Regions from separate parts of the Homo sapiens genome. Here region 2 is linked to region 1. Evidence: fine-mapped expression QTL. Tissue or cell type: lung. Region 1 holds a variant in brackets; the other region holds the start of a gene. All regions are shown on one strand. Distances are between the middles of the regions.

Region 1 (8,101 bases):
TATTTAATAATAGCATCTTCCTCATAGGTTTGTTGTAAAGGACTAATGCATGGGAAATGCCCTCACAGTACCTAGTATGCAATGAATGTCTCGTAAAAGGCACTGGAGATTAATTATTATTATTATTATTGTAGAGACAGGGTCTCACGTTGTTGCCCAGGCTGGTCTCAAACTCTTGGCCTCAAGTGATCCCCCGCCTTGGCTTCCCAGAGCACTGGGATTACAGGAGTGAGCAAACTCCTCCCTGCTCCCCTTGTCTCTGGCAGCGTCGCAGTCCTCCAGCACCACGGACAGCACCCCCATCACCAGTTCAGGGGGCCCCATTTGCTGCCGGGGCTGAGAAGCCTCTTTTGCCGGGGAAAGGGGCGGGGGGGGCGGGGAGGGGGGCAGCACCGTTCCTCTAGGGGCTTTTTTTTCCTGGCCTTGCCAGCCAGAGGCATGCCTCCCCAGAGGTAATGTCAGGACTCAGAGCCTCCACACGCTCAAAGGTACAGATTCCCACAGCTTCAAGTAAGCACTTGAGCACTTCGTCTGTGGTCACACAATTTAACCACCTTCTTACTTCTAAGATCTTTCTGCTGTCTTCTACTGGGGCCAGGAAAAAGAGTGTTAGACCAGGACAAGGACTTGGAGTCAGAAGACTTTAGCTTAAATTCTGGCTCCACTACTTCTGCCTGGGTGATCAGGAAAAGTCATTAAACTTCTCCGAGCCTCAGTTTCCTCATCTGTAAAATGGAGTGTTGGGATTCGGTCAGGCTGGTGGAAAAAATATTAGTTATGATAGCCACAAAACCCTTTCGGAAGGCCTGAGGGTTTTCACATGACTTCGGTAATAGACCGGGGCGAAGGTGGGCTGGTCCCATTACCTTCAGTTAAATAGATTAGAGTAGTAAATAACGGGATGTGGGGAAGTTATCTAGTTAACTTGTTTACTCATGTGGTCTCAAGACGAGCCTTTGATGTGTGCTTTTTACTCGGGAAGTCCTCAATGTCAATTACCTCTAATGGCGCTGACTCAAGCTTTTGTTAACTAATCTTAATGAATAAATGTGAGTCTCCCTAGCTGATCGGGGCGGCCACAGTGACAAACCTCTCTTGGTGTGTAGGCGGTCACTCAGCAGGACTGGCAAAACAGAATCTCTGTGTATCAGTGTACGTTTTATTCATCATTTGGGTCAGGGTCTGTGGGCAGACCCTCGTAGCTAATACCCTCTTGTGAGGAGCAATACCTCGACGGAGACAATATTCCCTAGTCTTGTAGCTTGTAGCTTAGTGGGATCATTCATTCATCCTTTCTTGCGGTAACAGGCTTGTTATGAAGAGATTCTGATGCCATTCTCCCACCCACCCACCCAGTCCTGCAGGAGCAAAAAAGAGACCAGGGAGGCTCTACCTTTGCCTAGGATGGTCAGGGAAGGTTTCATGAAGAGAATGATGTTAGACATGTGCCTTTGAAAGATGTGTCTTTGGCCGGGCGCGGTGGCTCATGCCTGTAATCCTAGCATTTTGGGAGGCCAAGGTGGGCAGATTGCCTGAGCTCAGGAGTTTGAGACCAGCCTGGGCAACATGGTGAAACCCGGTCTCTACTAAAATACAAAAAATTAGCCAGGACTGGCAGTGTGCGCCTGTACTCCCAGCTACTCAGGAGGCTGTGGCAGGGGAATCGCTTGAACCCAGGAGCGGAGCTTGCAGTGAGCTGTGATCGTGTCACTGCACTCCATCCTGGGGGACAGACCAAGACTCTGTCTCAAAAAAAAAAAAAAAAAAAAAGAGGGAAGGGAAGAGAAGGGAGAGGGAGAGAGGGGAAGTGGGGGCAGGGGAGAGGGGAAGTGGGGGCAGGGGAGGGGGAATTGGGGGGAGGGGAGGGGATGCTCTGTCAAAAAAAAAAGAGGGAAGGGAAGAGAAGGGAGAGGGGGAGGGGGGCAAGTTGGGGGAGGGGAGGGAAGGGGTGGGGAGGGAAGGGAAGGGAAGGGAAGGGAAGGGAAGGGAAGGGAAGGGAAGGGAAGGGAAGGGAAGGGAAGGGAAGGCAAAAGCCAAGGGCATGTTAAGATCCAGGGACCCTTGGCTAAGAGGGCTACAGTGGAATGGAATTTATGATCCAGGAAACTGCATTCCTGTGAAGGTGGTGGCTGCAAACGCAGGATGAGACCTTCCAGAGAAAAAGCCCAGTGTGGTGACAGCAGGTGGGCAAGGATGTGCCTCCTGAGGAAAAAGATTCTTTCCAACTGTCAGAAACGAGACAGAACTGATAAATACCCATGAAACCAGGTCCTTAAGTTGTGAAACTCATTCTGGGTCTTGTTAAAAATAAGTGTGTGCAACAATCGTTTGTCAAGATACTTTATCAAGCTGGAAAAGAAAAGCCATCTGCATCATGTCCAAGGAATCTAGGTGTGTCCCCACTCCAAATCCTGGCATTGAAGCCAGGTGCAGCCATGACAGGGACATATTCCCTGGAGCACTCTCCTGCTGACCCTTCCCTTCCCTGTGTAAGGACCCTTCTGCAGACCTCCAGCCTTGAACACTTTATATTGAAAGCTTCCCCTGTGCTCACTGCCCAAGAGCGTGGGGCTGGGGGGGTAAGGACCAGAGGACCAAGAGACACCCCATCAACTTCAGGGTTGGGTCATTCATTCAGGTCACAGCTATTTGTGAGTGGCTACTCTGGGGTTCACCAGAGGACACGAGAGAAATGCAGAAGGAGAAGCACTGGTGCTTATCATGCTGGGGATGATGGATGCATGGCAGAGACATCTAACAGCTGGGGTGCGTCAGGAGAGGAGCATAGCTAGGAGGTCTCCCTGGAGGAGAGATCTTGAAGCATAAGTAGGAGTTGGCGGGACAAAGGAGGAGGAGAAGGATGTCCTGGTCAGGGTGTGGGGGTGAGCAGGAAGAAGGCATGGAGAGGAAAGAGGGAAAAGCATGGACTTGAAGCTGGGCGCGGTGGCTCAATCCTGTAATTCCAGCACTTTGGGAGGCTGAGCCAGGAGAATCATTGGAGGTCAGGAGTTCGAGACCAGCCTGGTCAGCCTGGCCTGTCTCCACTAAAAATACAAAAATTAGCCAGGCATGGTGGCGGGTGCCTGTAATCCCAGCTACTTGGGAGGCTGAGGCAGGAGGATTGCTTGAACCCAGGAGGCAGAGGTTTCAGTGAGTCAAGATCACGCCACTGCACTCCAGCCTGAGAGACAGAGGGAGACTCCATCTCAAAAAATTAAAAAAATTAAAAAAACAAAACAAAACATGGGCTTGTCTTGCTGAGCCCACTAAGCCAGGAGGGGAGGGAGGGCCAGGTCCC[CA/A]GGGCCTTCAGACTCAGGCTGAGGACCTAGGACCACACCCTGCAGGCAATAGGGAGCCAGTGAAGGGTATTGAGCTGGGGAGGTCAGATTTGCATTTTGGAAAGATCTCTCTTGCAACTTTTTTTTTTTTTTTTTTTTGAGACGGGGTCTCCTATCACCCAGGCTGGAGTGTAGTGGTACAATTATGGCTCACTGCAGCCTCTACCTCTTGGGCTCAAGTGATCCTCCCACCTCAGCCTCCCAAGTAGCTGGCCACTACTACACACAGGTGCATACAACCATGTCCAGCTAGTTTTTAGAAGTTTTGTAGAGACAGGGTCTCACTAGTTTGTCTCTAACTCCTGGACTCAAGCAACCCTCCTGCCTTGGCCTCCCAAAGCTCTGGGATTGCAGGTGTGAGCCACTGTGCTCAACTCTCTCTTGCAACCTGATGCCCTCAGGCCCTTAAAGGATAACTGATAACCCAGTCCACATGAACCAAGACAGACCCGTGCCGATCAGCCAGTAGCAGATGGGTTCAAATCACTTACTATGTGTGCGTAGTGACTTAACCTCTTTCTTATCTGTAAAATGGGGTTAATATAAGTACCCGCACCTCAGGGTAAGGAGTAAAGGAATAACGTGTGTACAGTGCCTGGGTAGGCGATAAGCTCTATGCATTAAGTGTTAGCTGTTATCAGCCATGAACTATGCCAATCAGTCTAAACCATTACAGGCATGAGTTAGACCAGGAGGAAATATAGATCCATATAAATCAGAACAGATCAGGTCAATAATTACCATTTTAAATCATTACAAACACTCATAGCCCAATCATGGTACTTTTCACAGATACAAACCCACACAGACCAGTAGAGACCAGTAGAGACGGGTAAGAAGAGGGCAGGTGCGGGGCGCGGTGGCTCACGCCTGTAATCCCAGCACTTTGGGGGGCCGAGGCGGGTGGATCACAAGGTCAGGAAATCGAGACCATTCTGGCTAATACGGTGAAACCCCGTCTCTACTAAAAATATGAAAAATTAGCTGGGCGTGGTGGTGGGCGCCTGTAGTCCCAGCTAGTAGGGAGGCTGAGGCAGGAGAATGGTGTGAACCTGGGAGGCAGAGCTTGCAGTGAGCTGAGATCATGCCACTGCACTCCAGCCTGGGCGACAGAGCGAGACTCCGTCTCAAAAAAAAAAAAAAAAAAAAAGAGGAGGGCAGGCCCAGTGGCTCAAACCTGTAATCCCAGCAATTTGGGAGGCTGAGGCGGGTGGATCACCTGAGGTCAGGAGTTCGAGACCAGCCTGGCCAACATGGCAAAACTCTTTTACTAAAAATACAAAAATTAACTGGGTGTGGTGGCGGGCACCTGTGAACCCAGCTACTTGGGAGGCTGAGGCAGGAGAATCGCTTGTACCCAGGAGGCGGAGGTTGCGGTGAACTGAGATTGCGCCACTGCACTCCAGCCTGGGCAACAAAGTGAGACCTTGTCTGGAAAAAAAAAAAAAAAAAAGACGGGTAAGAAGACACTGCAGGGAGAGGCCTGGGAGGAGGTGGCTCAGGGAGCGGGCAGAGCCCAGTGAGCTTCCTCCATGACTCCTTGGAGTCTCTCTGGAGAGGCGCTGGTGCTGGCACGGCTGTTTGTTACCCAACCCTCCAGAAGACGCGGTGGGGGGAGGGGAACTGCTGAAAGCCTTGCTTTCAATAATTCAGCAGCTGGAGCTTCCTGCTGCCCCTGCTGGAGCTGGAGGAAAATCTTGGCCAGAGCCCCAAGGCTGGGGCTGGCTGGGGGTGGGAGGGCTGGTTCCTGGAGGGGCAGGCAGCCTGGCTTGCAAGGGTGCGGGCACTGCAGCTCTGTGTTTTGACCATAGCCCTTGTGGTCCCTCTTCTGCCCTCCCCTTTTCAGTCTAGGGCTGGGTCCAGCCATGCCTGGGCAGGACTCGGGCTGACCCTTTCCCTGCCGTCTCAGTCTGTGCTGGGCAATGGAGGTGGCTGGGCTGGCAAAGTTTCCAGGGCCAAGATGGGGTGTCCGGGGCCGGTGAGGCAGAGAGGGCGAGCCTGCAGACCACAGGAGAAAGCCCTGGTGGCTTAGCTGGCAATGTGCCCAGTCCTACGCTATCCCTGTCCAGCTCCACACCACATTCCACTCCACCCAAGAATGCACTGACCCATGCTGTTCCTCATGCCTGGAAGGTTCTTCCTCATCTACCCTTCCTGCAAGACTGCTCAAGCATCACCTCCTCCGTGAAGCCTTCCCTGACTGCCTGGAAGGACTCCCTGGGGGACGTGCCTCTGCTGTCACCCTGTGGCTACTACTCGCAATCTAGCATGACTGTTGCTCCTTGGCTGACTGAGGGCTGTCCAAGGGCAGAGACTGGGCCAATCCACATCTGTATCCCTAGTGCTCAGCACAGGGCTTGGCACAGAGCAGCCACCTGGGACTGTTTGCTGAGACCCCGCCTGTGTTTGCACCGATGGGAGCTCACTACTTATTGTTTTACCACCATCATCTCTGGGAACTACAGAGGGAGAGGTCCTTGGTCACTGCTCTCACTATGCCTAGACTATGTGCATGCTGACATTTGCATGGGCCTCATGGTCATCTACTTTGTAAGCCCTCGAGTCCAGCCTTGTCTTTGTTTGTTTGTTTGTTTGTTTTTGAGACAGTATCTCGCTGTGTTGTCCAGGCTGGAGTGCAGTGGTGTGATCTCGGCTCACTGCAACCTCCACCTCCTGGGTTCCAGCCATTCTCATGCCTTAGCCACCCAAGTAGCTGGGATTACAGGCGTGTGCCACCATGCCTGGCTAATTTTTTGTACTTTTAGTAGAGACGGGGTTTCACTATGTTGGCCAGGCTGGTCTCAAACTCCTGACCTCAAGTGATCCACCCACCTTGGCTTCCCAGAGTGCTGAGATGACAGGTGTGAGCCACCGCACCCGGCCCCAGCCCTGTCTTTGAATAGATAGGAAGGACTTCTCTGGTCAAGGCTCCTGTCTTTGTTGGCTCTGATTTGGGTTCCTGGAGCAAAGATTTGGGTGGCAACCAAGCAGGCTGCCCAGGGCATCCCCTCAGGCTTCTGCTGGGCTGGCTGAGATCAAAGAGAAAGCCGGCTGGGGGCTGGAGCATCACTGACAAGGGACAAGGAGGGACAAGGAGGCCTCCACTGTCTGCTGCCTCCAGAGGAGTCCACAGTACAGGTAATGCAGCCCAGGTGAGAACAGGTAACAATGCTCAGGTGAGATCAGTGCAGATTGATGTAGCCCAGGACAGGTCATACAGAGCCTTGTAAATGGGACAGACCCAGCCAAGCCAGGAGCTCAGACCGACTGATCAACAGAGGACAGTGGGGACACTGCACACCAGCATGACAGACAGCTGGAAGGTATCAGAACAAGCAACACTGGCTACTGAAAGCAATACAGGCCGGGTATGGTGGCTCACGCCTGTAATCCCAACACTTTGGGAGGCTGAGGCAGGTGGATCACTTGAGGCCAGGAGTTCAAGACCAGCCTAGCCAACATGGCCATCTCTACTAAAAATACAAAAATTAGCCAGGCATGGTGGCTGGTGCCTGTAATCCCAGCTACTTGGGAGGCTGAGGCAGGAGAATTGCTTGAACCTGGGAGGCAGAAGTGGCAATGAGCCAAGATCACGCCGCTGCACCCCAGCCTGGGCAACAAGAGCGACACTCTGTCTGAAAAAAACAAAAAACAAACAAACAAAAAGGCCAGGTGTGATGGTGCATGCCTATAGTCCCAGCTACTTGGGAAGCTGAGGCAGGAGAATCTCTTGAACCCGGGAAGCAGAGGTTGTAGTGAGCCGAGATTTCACCACTGCAATCCAGCCTGGGCAACAGAGTGAGACCTTGCCAAAAAAAAAAAAAAAAAAAAAAAAGAAAAGAAAGCAACACAGACGAGTTCAACCTAGTAGACAGATCTGTAGAGGCCAGAACTGATATGAAATAAGCAAGTAGTGGTTTGGTCTCTTCTCCCCTGCATTCTAGAGGAACAAAAGAATCCCTGCCTTACTCAGTCTTCCTGCTCTCTGTCAGGGCCCTCAGTGGCCTTGTGGGAGGCTGAAGCCTTGCCACCAAGAGCAGACAGCTTCCCTGGGGCTGCTGAGCAAGAATGGAGATGGGGGTGGGGTGGAGGGTGGGGAGAATGTTCTACAGAAGCAGCTTCAGCTTAGCCCAAGAAAGAACAGTCTTATGACTGAGCTGTCACCGATGGCAGGTGGCGGTCTCTGTGTCCCGGGAGGGTGCAAATCAGATGGCCTTGGTGGAGATATGGAGGGAGAGCCACCTGTGTGTCAGAAGCCCATGCTCTCTGAGGACCCTCCCAAGCTGGCCTTGAGGACTGACCCTGCAGTGAAATCGGAGAAGCCTGTGTGCTTTACCCAGTTTTCATCACCTCCTTCTCCTTCCCCCAGGATCAGATCCCAACCCCCGCTCCAGGCTCACACCTGGGAGCTAGGCAGAGGAAGGCACGATGGGCTAGAAGTTGTATAACCAGATCCCTTTTCCTTTCTGAGCCTCAGTTTCTCTTATCTGGACCAAGTGTCAGGGGCCTGGATACTGGCAGGGCTTGGGTAGTGTTAGTCTAAACTGCACCATTTTGTAAGCTCCCTGCTATTTTGCAGACCTTAGTCAAAGTGAAACACTTCACAGTGGTTCGGGTCGTGAGAAACATCCTACCTAACCACCTGACCACAAGGTGGACAAAGGCCCGACTGAAGAAACAGCCTTCCTCTTACGATATTCTGCTGGGAGAAAATGCAAGGAGTACCACATTCTGCTGGAACAAGGGCCAGAACTGCCTCATTA
Region 2 (8,101 bases), 170 kb after region 1:
GTTAACACTGCCTTCATTTATAAGTTTTAACACTTTATAACGTGTTATGGTTTGTTTTAAAATTTCTACTTGAGTTTATATTGTAATGTATATATTAGTACATATACCTATAAGTAAATACATTGGGGCTATGTGCTTCCTACGCTTTTACTGTTAAAGATACAGGATCCAGCTAGGCGTGGTGGCTCACGCGTTTAATCCTAGCACTTTGGGAGGCTGAGATGGGCGCATCACCTGAGGTCGGGAGTTTGAGACCAGCCTGACCAACATGGAGAAACCCTGTCTCTACTAAAAATACAAAATTAGCCAGGCATGGTGGCGCATGCCTGTAATCCCAGCTACTCGGAAGGCTGAGGCAGGAGAATGGCTTGAACCTGGGAGGCGGAGGTTGCGGTGAGCTGAGATCGCACCATTGCACTCCAGCCTGGGCAACAAGAGCGGAACTCCGTCTCAAAAAAAAAAAAAAAAAAAATCCAAAGTCTGGAGACCACTGCACCATGGGCTCAAGCCCATCTTTCTTTCTGCTTTCATCAGCTGCCTTCTCAACAATGTCGCTTGTATGCCCAACAGGCATTTTAAATTGAACATATGAAAAACTGAGATCCTGGCCGGGTGTGGTGGCTCACGTCTATAATCCCAGTACCTTGGGAGGCCAAGACAGGTGGATCACCTGAGGTCAGGAGTTTGAGACCAGCCTGGCCAACATGGCGAAACCCCATCTCTACTGAAAATACAAAAAAAAATTAGTTGGGCGTGGTGGCAGCACCTGTAATCCCAGCTACTCAGGAGGCTGAGGTGAGAGAACCACTTGAACCCAGGAGGCGGAGGCTGCAGTGAGCCGAGATCACGCCACTGTACTCCAGCCTGGGCAACAGAGCGAGACTCTCAGTAAATAAATAAAAACTGAACTCCTGATATCTTCTCCCTGGTTAAACCCACTCTCTTCTATAAGTCTTGCCTATTTCAGCCCAACTCCAAGGCCCAAAACCTTGGTGTCATCCCCGACCCCTTATCTAATCACACATCAGCAAATCCTTCTGGTACCATCAATGAATACCCAGAATTCAATCATTTCTTACCACCTGCACCTAGATAACCACAATGAACTCCTAACCTACCTTTCTCTCACTCCTAAGACCATCTTGTTAAAATGGAAGGAAGAGCAAGTCATTACGCAGCTGAAAACCCTCAACTGGCCGCCCCATTTCTGAGAAAATACCAAAGTTTTACAAGGCCTGTTCTGTTACCTCCACTGCCTTCTCTGGAACTACCCTAGCCTCATTTTCTCAAACCTTCAAGGCATGCCCCATGCTTCTCCAAGGGCTCTCAGCTACATCCTGAGACATATCCCTTACCTGCAATACTCTTTCCATATGATGTGATCTCTGCTTCCTTCAGACTTTACTCAAACATCTCACTCTGCGTGAGGCCTACCCTGGCTGATGTAAAACTGCTACCCTCGGCTGGGAGTGGTGGCTCACGCCTGTAATCCCAGCACTTTGGGAGGCCAAGGAGGGTGGATCACTTAAGGCCAGGAGTTTGAGACCAGCCTGGCCAACATGGTGAAACCCCATCTCTACTAAAACTACAAAAATTACCCAGCTGTCGTAGCCCTTGCCTGTGATTCCCACCTACTCGGGAGGATGAGGCAGGAGGATAGCTTGAGCCCAAGAGTTGGTTGCAGTGAGCCAAGATGGCGCCACTGCACTCCATCCTGGGCAACAGAGTGGGACTCTGTCAGGTCCATCCTGGCCAACATGGTGAAACCCCATCTCTACTAAAAACACAAAAATTAGCTGGGCACGGTGGTGCGCGCCTGTAGTCCCAGCTATTCGGGAGGCTGAGGCAGGAGAATCGCTCCAACCTGGGAGGTGGAGGCTGCAGTGAACCGAGATCACGCCACTGCACTCCAGCCTGTCGACAGGGCGAGGCACTGCATCAAAAAAAGTAAATAAAATTGGTACCCTCTTCCCTAACACAAGCACCCTACAATCCCCATTTTTCTTGCATGTTCATCACTATTTTAAGATACTTTATAATGAGTGGGGCAATAAGTAAAATATCTAGTAATTTCCGTGAGAGCAGGGACTTCTGTGTTTTGTTCACCGCTGTATTTCCAGTACCTAGCTCAATAAATATGTCGGATATCTGAAGGTCCTACCAAAACTCAACCTCTCCCTGGACACCCCTGTCCTCTCTTTGGTTGGCTGCCCCTCCCCCACACCTCATCCCTCCTGTCCTGTTTACTCATTCCCTAAGACCTTCATCGCCTCCACCTGTCCTAAGTTTACTCATTCCCTAAGACCTTCATCGCTTCCACCTGTCCTAAGTTTACTCATTCCTGTCCCATATCAAGTGTCACTTCTCACTTATCTTGGTATCCCCTGCAGCACCCAGCATAGTTGTTGGCAAGCACAGGTACTTAATGTACTTATCTGTATACAGCTGGGCCCCCACTTCACCGCAGCGCAAAAGCATTTGGTACATTCAACTTACAATGGGGTTGCCTGTGGGAACCCATTGCAAGTTGAAAATACACAAAGTTAAACTCGCCTTTTGACTTAGGATATTACCAACTTGCGATGGGTATGGGAAGTAGCCATCAATCCAGGAGCATTTGTATTTATTTTTCAAATGAACTGGATGTACAGGAAACTCGAGAACTTCGATGATAAATTTGGATTCCCCTTTAAAATTACCTCCCTCTTGGGCGTCGTAATTAAAAGGCAATGCGAGCACCTCCTGGGTTCTCAAAATTAGGTTTAATTAGATTCACCTGGTAAAAATGCGGACCCCCCCCCCCCCCCCCGCAGTCTTAAGCTTCTTCAATGAACCCAGACGTCTGTTTTTTATTAGCTTTCTGGTGATTCTGACACACTGCAGAGTTTAAGAACCACCATTCTAGAAGATGGCTAAAAATAGCCTAGGCTCCTAGGCTTAAGTGGTCGCGGGCCAAGTCAAGCACTGTTAAGACACCTGGCGGCAGGCTCAGTCCGCCCACAGCAGGAGAGATCCTCCAAAAAGGTTAAGAGGAAGCCGTCTTCAGGTCAGAAGCGCTGAATTCTAATCCTCTGGCCAAATGACTGTAACCCTGGCCCAGTTCTCTAGCCTCGGTTTGTCCATACTATGGAATTAGGAAGTATACGATTTCTTTTATTCACGCACAACTCACACGGATGCTGCAAGGAGATTAGCTACGTCAAAGCAATGGAACGCTGCAGAAAAAAACGTAAGTTTACTTTCAGATGCAGAGCCCTGGTTTCCCAACCTTGAAGGCGTGCAAGCCAAGAGCAGGTCCTCTGGGAAATCTGGGAGACCTGGGGGAACCCTGACAAATGGACCGGCCCTGGAGCGGGACTACCTCGCCCCCTTTTCCCCGGCTTTCTCCCCCGCACCTCCAGGCCAGTGTCAGGGCCTGCCCCGGGCGCCACAGTCTCCAGCCAGTGCCGGGCATCCCTGCGGTCCAGGCTGGCCTGGAGAGGGTCAGAGCTGCCCGCGAACCGGGGACGCACGTGGCCCGGGCCGGGGGGCCTCCGCCTGCAGGCCGCCCCTCGTCTGGCCTACCTGGGCCGAGGTGCTGAAGCTGCGGCGGAGAGCAGCGCTGGCAGGCCGGGCGAGGGCGGAGAGCATGGCTGGAGCGGGAGGGGCACCGACTGGCAGGCACAGGAGCTGGTGACGGGGAAGTGACTCCAACGACCTCCACACTGCCCAGCGCCTGCTCTCTGGGGCCTCGCGAGAGTGACCGGACTTCCGGTCGCGCTCGCCTCCGGGATCTCGTGAGATCACGGCCACTTCCGGGAGTCGGAAAGGAAAGCTGTGGGACCATCCTGGCAACCCCGGTGTTTGGCTGGGTTCTAGCGTAGCCGTCTGTGTGGCCGGTGGGGGACCTGCGGTCGGAGTGGGAGGGCCAGTCTGCACCCAAGAGGTGGAAGAGGACGGGCTTTAGGCTGGAAGCGCCTTAGAGGAGCCATTTTTCCAGGTGGGGCCCCAGGCAGAGGCTCCGACAGGGAGCCTGGCCATAGTCGCGCAGCCGGGGAGGTGGAGCGCGTCCCAGACCCGAGCCCCCGACCTCAGCCAAACCCATTCCTTCTGCCCTTGGAGGCCAGAGGGGACTCTGAGCTCCGGAAAGGTAGGGTCAGGGAGGCTGAGAGTCCTTAGGCGGGGTGGGAGGAAGGGGCCATCTCCTCAGATCCGGGCCGTCGTTTCCCAAGTTGCAGAGACCCTTGGGTTCAGGTTTAGTGACACCACTGCTGATAATGGCGACCTCCAGCCCTGCAAGCTTTAGAGGACCACTATTCTGTGTTCCAGATGAGCAAATAGGTTGTAGGGACAACAACTTCCGTGGTCATACAGTTCCTGTCTTCTCTCGCCTGCCCGGCAGTGCTCTGACGGTCCCACTGTTTCTGCTTTACGAATAAAGACACTGTGGCTGAGGCCAAGTGGATTTGTAGAGTTTACGCAGACAGAAAGTCGAGTAGAATTCCTTGCTCACAATGAGTTTATTACTTAAATGTATGAATTTATTTATTTTTTTGAGACGGAGTCTCTCTAGCCCAGGCTGGAGTGCAGTGGCGCGATCTTGGCTCACTGCAACCTCTGCCTGTCAGGTTCAAGTGGTTCTCCTGCCTCATTCTCCTGAGTAGCTGGGATTAGCGCACCACTACACCTGGCTAATTTTTTGTATTTTTTTTTTAGTAGAGACGGGGTTTCACCACGTTGGTCAGGCTGGTCTCGAACTCCTGACCTCGTGATCCACCCGCCTCGGCCTCCCAAAGTGCTGAGATTACAGGCGTGAGCCACCGCGCCCGGCCTGATACATATTTTTAAAATTAAACAACACCCCCAGGCAAGGTGGCTCATGCCTGTAATCCCAGCACTCTGGGAGGCTGAGGCGGGCCGATCACTTGAGGCCAGGAGTTCATGACCAGCCTGGCTAACATGGTGAAACCCCATCTCTACTAAAAATACAAAAATTAGCCCAGCGTGGTGGTGTACACCTGTAGCCCCAACTACTCCGGAGGCTGAGGCAGGAGAATCGCTTGAACCCGGGAGGTGGAGGGAGGTTGCAGTGAGCCGAGATAACCCCACTGTACTCCAGCTTGGGCGACGGAGAAAGACTCTGTCTCAAAAAAAAAAAAAAAAAAAGCCGGGTGTGGTGGCTTATGCCTGTAATCCCAGCACTTTGGGAGGTCAAGGCGGGCAGATCACCTGAGGTCAGGAGTTTGAGACCAGACTGGCTAATGTGGCGAAACCCCATCTCTACTAAATATACAAAAATTGGCTGGGCATGGTGGCGTGTGCCTGTAGTCCCAGCTACTCAGGAGGCTGAGGCAGGAGAATCCCTTGAACCCAGGAGGTGGAGGTTGCTGTGAGCCAAGATTGTGCCATTGTACTCCATCCTGGGTGATAAGAGCTAAACTCCGGCTCAAAAGCGCGCGCGCGCGCGCGCGCACACACACACACACACACACACACACACACACACACACACACACACACACACACACACACACACAGCAGATAAGCTGAGACATGCTGGAAGAGTAGGTGTTTCTCAATGGAACATTCAACTCCAGAGGAGGGAAAGATCCCTTGCCTTGGAATCAGAATTCTCAAAGGAGGGGCACTAGGGCCTGAGCATTTAACAATGGGAAATGTTTAGACAGGAAAGGAGGAGAAAAAAGGCCAAATAAAATCCTAGCGGGAAAAAATAAGCATAGGCCAGTATTCAGGGGACAGTGAATAGATCATTTATTTTGGAGTGGGGACATTAGGGCAAGCAGTGTCCTTTGTTTATCTTATCACTGACTGCATCTTCTGGTAATTATTTACTCCTCTGTCTTGTAACTGAGAGCACCTCAGAGCCAGGTATTAAGTCTTGCCAGGTACTAAGTCTTTCTTCTGTTTTTTTTGTCCAACATGCGACTGGGCTGAAAGGGCCTCAGTGAATTTGTGGAGAGTTGAGTGGTTTTAGGTACAGCTGGAAACAGCAGGTTGGGAAAAACTAGATTGTGCCGGTCCCATGAATGTTAGCTGAGAAGTTTGTATTTCATTTCTTGGGAAGCAAGTGTTTATCAAAGGTTGTTTATTTATTTGAGATGGAGCCTCACGCTGTTGCCCAGGCTGCAGTGCAGTGGCGCGATCTCGGCTCACTGCAACCTCCACCTCCGGGTTCACGCAGTTCTCCTGCCTCAGCCTCCCAAGTAGCTGGGATTACAGGTGTGCACCACCACACCTGGCTAATTTTTGTATTTTTAGCAGAGACAGGGATTTGTCATGTTGGCCAGGCTGGTCTAGAACTCCTAACCTCAAGTGATCTGCCCGAGTCAGCCTCTCAAAGTGCTGGGATTATAGGCGTGAGCCACTGCACCTGGCCAATCAGGCTTTTGTGACACTGCCAGAACTGTGTTTGAGGAAGATTAGACTGACCTTGTATGCTAAGAATTCCCAGGAAAAAAAAAATGGAGATTGTTTAGGAATCTATTCAGGGAGATTGTTTAGGAATCTATTTTATGGATGACAAAGGTCTGAATTACGGTGGTGGCCATAGAAATGGAGTGGGTAGGGCCAGTGTGGGAGAAGTCTCATGGGAAGAATGGGTAACAGTCTGTGCTCATCTGGGTTTGAGGAGTGAAAGAAAGAGGTGTGGAAAATACATAAAGAGGGAAGTCGGGTTATACAAAGGAGAGGAGAAAAATAAAGGAGGTTATACCAAAGGAGAGGAGAAAAAATAAAGAGTTCCGTTTTAGATGGGCTTAATTGGGAGTTATGCTGAGTTGTCCATATAGACCTTTCAGTGGTATGGGCCGTGTTCATGCCTGTAATCCCAACACTTTGAGCAGCCAAGGCGGACGATCACTTGAGCTCAGGAATTCAGGACCAGCCTGGGTAACATGGCAAAACCCCATCTCTACAAAAAGTACGAAAATTCTCTGGGCGTGATGGTGTGTGCTTGTAGTCCCAGCTACCCAAGAGGCTGACATGAAACAATCGCTTGAGCTCAGGCGATCGGGGGAGGTCAAGGCTGTAGTGAGCCATGATTGTGCCACTGCATTCTGACATGGGTGACAGAGCAAGATATGTCTCATTTAAGGGGGGAAAAAAGGAACTGTGGGATTGAAACTCAGGCCAGGGCGGAAGTCACCTCTGTAGAGGGGGAGAGTTGAGACCATGAGCAATAAACTGGAATCACAGATTGTCAGGCTCCCTCCCACATCTGGAATTCAGTTTCCTCCACATCCCTCCCAAGTCCTCATCTCCACAGAAGAGGAACTCGCTACCTCCCAAGCCTTCTACTTGGGCCATCCCAAACAACTTGACTGCTAGAAAAGCCTCACATTTGGCCCAGTGCAGTGGCTCATGCCTGTAATTCCACCCCTCTGGAAGGCCAAGGTGGGAGGATCGCTTGAGCCCAGGAGTTCAATACCAGCCTGGGCAACACAGGAGACCCTGTCTACAAATAATAAAAATTAGCCAAGCATGGTGGTATGTGCCAGTGGTCCCAGTTACTCAGGAAGCTAAGGCAGGAGAATTGAGCCTGGGAGTTTGAGGCTGCAGTGAGCTGTGTTTGCACCACTGCACCCCAGTCTGGGTGACAGAATGAGACCTTATCTCAAAGGAAAAAAACATAAAAAGCCTCACACTCAGCTCCTATCTGCCTCTCTCTAAGGAAATACCAAGGTAATTAACAACAGTCTTATTGGCTGCTGTATGAAGCACTGTGTGGTAGGCATTGATTTTACTTGGTGTTTTGCAAGTGAAACTTATATTAAACAAGCAGGGTTTCCACAGTCAAGAAGTAGAATTCAATCATGCAGCAGCTTTCTGTCTTTAAATCTTTGCTTGCCCTTGGATTGTGTCTGGTTACTAGGACAGACTTACTGTCCAGTTCATGTTAATAATCAAAACTAGGAATTTAATTCAAAGGTAAAGCTGCTTCTCTTCCCCTCTCAAGCTTTCTTTGGGCTCCCACATTTGAGGAGGACAGTAGTTGACTTCTGTTTATTTTGTTTCCTCTTCCATCCCACCCCAGCCCAGGCCAACTATGGCTTCTGAGGCATCCTGTGTTGGTGGAGGGGGTTATAAGAGAGTAGAGATGGGG

What was found. PIP is the estimated chance that this variant, and not a neighbour inherited with it, causes the effect.
Region 2: it holds the start of STYXL1, and the variant in region 1 is fine-mapped to the expression of STYXL1 in lung (TOPMed, PIP 0.91).

Annotation. Positions count from the first base shown.
Region 1 is chr7:76,217,747-76,225,847 of GRCh38, reverse strand. All of the region lies in intron 1 of SRRM3 (serine/arginine repetitive matrix 3), which reads right to left. Among named protein-coding and RNA genes, the nearest start is that of SRRM3, 20 kb to the right of the region's middle. RefSeq lists a silencer at 170-370 and enhancers at 715-1,219, 2,558-3,058. The variant CA/A (reference allele first, on the strand shown) is at 3,299.
Region 2 is chr7:76,043,690-76,051,790 of GRCh38, reverse strand. It overlaps STYXL1 (serine/threonine/tyrosine interacting like 1), which reads left to right and starts at 3,791. Exons shown (of 9, transcript NM_001317785.2): 1 at 3,791-4,129. It overlaps MDH2 (malate dehydrogenase 2), which reads right to left and starts at 3,685. Exons shown (of 9, transcript NM_005918.4): 1 at 3,565-3,685. The coding sequence starts at 3,630. RefSeq lists enhancers at 2,754-3,535, 3,811-3,890, 4,001-4,090, 3,536-4,318 and a silencer at 3,401-3,560.